Regions from separate parts of the Homo sapiens genome. Here region 2 is linked to region 1. The links come from fine-mapping of genetic effects on gene expression. Tissue or cell type: whole blood. Region 1 holds a variant in brackets; the other region holds the start of a gene. All regions are shown on one strand. Distances are from middle to middle.

Evidence for each region. PIP is the estimated chance that this variant, and not a neighbour inherited with it, causes the effect.
Region 2: ATP5MC1 starts here. The variant in region 1 is fine-mapped to the expression of ATP5MC1 in whole blood (INTERVAL, PIP above 0.99).

What each region holds. Positions count from the first base shown.
Region 1 is chr17:48,843,521-48,846,020 of GRCh38, reverse strand. The region is part of intron 2 of CALCOCO2 (calcium binding and coiled-coil domain 2); the gene reads right to left. Among named protein-coding and RNA genes, the nearest start is that of CALCOCO2, 14 kb to the right of the region's middle. The variant C/A (reference allele first, on the strand shown) is at 1,378.
Region 2 is chr17:48,891,549-48,894,048 of GRCh38, reverse strand. ATP5MC1 (ATP synthase membrane subunit c locus 1) reads right to left here and starts at 1,262. Exons shown (of 5, transcript NM_005175.3): 1 at 1,139-1,262; 2 at 593-640. The coding sequence starts at 631. LOC105371814 (a long non-coding RNA gene) reads left to right here. Exons shown (of 4, transcript NR_135674.1): 2 at 1,372-1,802. RefSeq lists enhancers at 460-509, 550-659, 1,240-1,359, 1,370-1,829, 1,467-2,446.

The sequences.
Region 1 (2,500 bases):
GGGGAGAGCATTTGAGGTGAGCTGCAAAGGACGAAACTTTACAGCCAACTCTTCATTCTCTAATTTACTATCTGTTGCTCAAAGGAATTCAGCAGAGTAGAGGAGGAAAAACCAGAGGTTTGGGAGCCAAACCTGCTTCACGGCTTATTCACTGTGAGGCCTTGGGAAAGTCACCATCTCTCAGGGATATTCATGTTACTTACTTATGCCCAAGAGATACTACTACCCACCTCAGGGGGCTACTGCACTGTGAGAATTTTTCTTTCTTTTCTTTTCTTTTTTTTTTTTTTTTGAGATGGAGTCTCGCTCTGTTGCCCAGGCTGGAGTGCAATGGCATGATCTTGGCTCACTGCAACCTCCGCCTCCTGGGTTCAAGGGATTCTCTTGCCTCAGCCTCCCAAGTAGCTGGGATTACAGGCATGTGCCACCACGCCTGGCTAATTTTGTATTTTTAGTAGAGACAGGGTTTCTCCATGTTGGTCCGGCTGGTCTTGAACTCCCTAGCTCAGGTGATCCACCTGCCTCGGCCTCTTAAAGTGCTGGGATTACAGGCATGAGCCACAGCACCTGGCCCACTGTGAGGATTTAATTAGGCAATACACACACACACACACACACACACACACACACACACACACACACACACACAGTGAGGATTTAATTAGGCAATACACACACACACACACACACACACACACACCCTCAACATAGGCCTAGCATAGTGTGTCCTCAGGGTAGGTATTCAAGTCAATAGCTTTATGGACAAGGGACATTAGAAGCCCTTCTTCAGATTAACGATTATTTCTTTATTGGGGTATGGTAATACCTCTGAAATGTATGAAGCATTCCAAATATAGATACATCTTTAAAAAAAATTTTTTTTTTGAGATGGAGTCTTGCTCTGTTGCCCAGGCTGGAGTGCAGTGGCATAATCTTGGCTCACTGCAACCTCTGCCTCTTGGGTTCAAGCAATTCTCCTGCCTCAGCCTCCTGAGTAGCTGGGACTACAGGTGGGTGCCACCACGCCTGGCTAATTTTTGTATTTTTAGTAGAGATGGGGTTTCACCATGTTCGCCAGGCTGGTCTTGAACTCCTGACCTTAAGTGATCCATCTGCCTTGGCCTCCCTCCTGGGATTACAGGCGTGAGCCACCGCACCTGGACAAAATATTTTTAAACACTTGTTTTTAAAAGGCCCCAGATTGGCCGGGCGCGGTAGCTCACGCCTGTAATCCCAGCACTTTGGGAGGCTGAGGTGGGTGCATCATCTGAGGTCAGAAGTTCCAGACCAGCCTGGCCAACGTGATGAAACCCTGTCTCTACTAAAAATACAAAAATTAGCTGCGCATGGTGGTGGGTCCCTGTCATCCCAGCTACT[C/A]GGGAGGCTGAGACAGGAAATCGCTTGAACTGGGGAGGCGGGGTGCCTGTAATCTCAGCTACCTGGGAGGCTGAGGCAGGAGAATCGCTTGAACCAGGGAGGCAGAGGTTGCAGTGAGCCAAGATCGCGCCATTGCACTCCAGCCTGGGTGACAAGAGCAAAACTCCATCTTAAAAAAAGAAAAACGCCCAAGATTTTCATATGATATATGGTGAAGTCTTTACTGGTGGTTGCTAAGCGCTTGGGGGAATACAACCAGTCTAAGCAAAATAGAAATATAACGATGTTCCAAAAAGAAAAAAAAAAGACGTTATAAACTACGTTTTAAAGTCTGGTAAGTAATTTTTGAATCATTCTCTTTTTCATGATCTGTACCTGCATTAACCAATGATAGCCACTAGCCACATGAAGCTATTTAAACTTTAATTAACATTAAGTAAAATTTAAAATCCAGTTACTCAGGCCGGGTGCGGTGGCTCACACCTGTAATCCCAGCACTTTGGGAGGCCGAGGCAGGCGGATTACCTGAGGTGGGGAGTTCGAGACCAGCCTGACCAGCATGGAGAAACCCTATCTCTACTAAAAATACAAAATTAGCCAGGCGTGGTGGCACATGCCTGTAATCCCAGCTACTCGGGAGGCTGAGGCAGGAGAATCGCTTGAACCTGGGAGGCGGAGGTTGCGGTGAGCCGAGATTGCGCCATTGCACTCCAGCCTGGGCAACAGAACGAAACTCTGTCTCTAAATAAATAAATTAAATTAAATTAAATCCAGTTACTTAGTCACACTAACCACATTTCAAGTGCTTAACAGCCACATGTGGCTAGTAGCAGCTGTACTAGACAGTGAAGCTACAGCTCCATTGCAGAAAACTCTTACCAGGCAATGTGACCTATACGCTTTGCTACATATGAGGAAGAAAAACAACTACCATCTTCTTTCTAAGACAGAAAACACTCTGGTGGGTTGGCACGCCTTTTAGTCTGATGATTCAACACCTTGCAGTCTCAACAGCTGTCATGATACTTGCCAGTGTCCTGCTGGTTGGCCACAATCCCTATCTCCAAACACCAGTCTTGTTACCTCCAGCTTCCGTTGCTCATCAATAAGCTTGATGTTCCAA
Region 2 (2,500 bases), 48 kb before region 1:
CCAAGTAATCAGATGGGGGAAATTTTATTCTGCTAAAATACACTCACAGCTACACACCCTAAATGGAGTGGGCCAGTCAGCCCCGGAAACCGACTGGAATAGCCATCCAAGGAGAGCCATCTGTAACATGGCTTTTTTGAAATAATTTTTAGTGCAGTGGTTCTCAAACTTGGCTGCACGGTGGAATCATCTGGAGAAGTCTTAAAAGATACAGATGCCTGGGTTCCACCCCCATTCCCAAAGTCTGATGCAAATGGTCTAAGGTGCAGCCTAGGCATCAGGATTTTAAAAAGTTCCCTGGATGATTCTAACGTGCAGCCACTGTTGAAAACCACTGTTTTAGTGGGCTGTCTCTATGGCCAGGACAGACTGGGGATAAAAATCAAATCCAGACTCTCTGACCACATTCCAAAGCCAAGATAGCTTGGTTCACAGGCCCAGATAAACAGGGGTTACCTTCATCACATCCTACAGCCACCTCAAAGAGCCTACATCATCAGGACGCCAAGCTCCCCTGGGTTCATTCATTAAACACTGATGGCGTCCACACCATACACCTGGTACTACAGAGCACTGCGGCGCGGCACCTTACCAGAGCTGGAGAAATGAATAATGCCCCGGCGGTCTGCATTTTTTCAGTCTGCAGAGGGGGAAAAAATAGTAATAATAATCCCACTGAGACCCTGGTTGTTTGCTTATAATGACGACCTTTGGTCGTCCCCTTCACCCCCGTCCGTCCTCCCTAGACCACGCTCTTCCTTGCACCGTGCCCCAGCTGAGGAGGGCATTAGAGGTCAGAGGGACAGAGCAGTGGGTCTTCAAAGCAAAGTCATGGAGATCGGAAGTCAAGGAAATGTGCCCAAGCCCCAGGAAGGAAATGTTGCGAAAGGGAATGGTCTCTCGGGAAGACTGGAGGCGGATACTGGGCAGGTGTCGCGCAGGATCCTGCCCATCTTACACAGCAGTCCCCGACCCGCCCCAGCCGAGGCAGTCAATCGTTCATTACCGTTGGTAATTAACATTCATTGATAAGGCCATATCTAGATTGCCATAGCCTCTCCCAGCACTGGGGGGAAATACCCCTCCACACTGCCCAGCCCACAACCCTGCCTATTGCTGGCTCCCGGCCCCAAGTCACCTGCACTCCTACTACCCTGCAACCCCTGCTTGGCCCACAGCGCTCGCCCGGCTCAAGGTGACAGACTCACCTCCCAGCTTTAGCCCTTGGTCTCAGCGCTCAGCTTCCCCCACCCACGTGTCCTGGACCTTCTCCATTCTCATTGGCCGTAATATCCCCGCGTCCCCATTGGTTGACGTCATCGATTCCCCACTCTTATTGGCTTTCCGCAGCTGCTTCCTCTCCCTCCACAGGAGCTTCGTGGCAATTCCCGCCTCCATGCGGATAGAGGCGGGGCTTTCCTACGAGATCTGGATTACGATTGGCCGATCCCTGAAACGCTCGACCATAGAGTTGGCGGGACTCAGAGGTTCCATAACCTCGCGCACAAGATGGCGACCAAGGTGTACGCTGAAGAAAAAGGCGTGGGAGAGATGACGGGACGTGTGACGCAGTCAGACACATGACTTTGGCCCCGAGCCTTCATTCGGGCGCTTGGGCCACGGGGCGCGTTGCATGTTGGGATTGGTAGTTGCGCTGAGGGGGGGGGCCCAAGGACAGCTGAGATCCCGCGAGATATTCTAGGCCGGGAGAGCCGATGCCTTTGCAGTAATTCCCACCGTGGAGGTTTGTGGAAAGACCGCTTTCCATGGAGAGTAAAGGCCGGCTGGAAAGTCCCCAAGCGGTGAGCGCAGTTTTGTGGACCTCAGCCGGTGTTCAGCAGTCATGGACTATCATCCAGATGGCTTTCTAAAACATTTGTTGGGCCGGGTGCAGTGGCTCACGCCTGTAATCCCAGCACTTTGGGAGGCCGAGGCGGGCGGATCACCTGAGGTCAGGAGTTCGAGATCAGCCTGACCAGCATGGTGAAACCCCGTCTCTACTAAGAATACAAAAATTAGCCGGGCATGGTGGTGGCGCGTGCCTGTAATCCCAGCTACTTGGGAGGCTGAGGCAGGAGAATCGCTTGAACCCGGGAGGCCGAGGTTGCAGGGAGCCGAGATCGCGCCACTGCACTCCAGCCTGGGCAACTGAGCAGGATTCCGTCTCGGGGGAAAAAACAAACAAAAAAATTGTTTATTTTGTAAAAACAACACTGAAAGAATGAAATAATATCCCTATAGAAAAACGAGCAAAGGATAGGAACAGGCAATTCAGTAAGGAAGAAATATGAATTGCAGGAACGAATGTCAGCCTTCCTAATCAAAGAAATATAAGTTTAAACGCTCCGCTTAGTACTGCTCAAAACAGCAGAGTTCTTTTTATTAATGTGAGCCACACGCTCTCCTATATTGCTGGTGAGAGGATGAATTAGAAAACCTTCCTTGAAAGCAGTTTGGCAATATTTATTTTTATTCAAAGGCTGTGAATGGGCCATCCTCT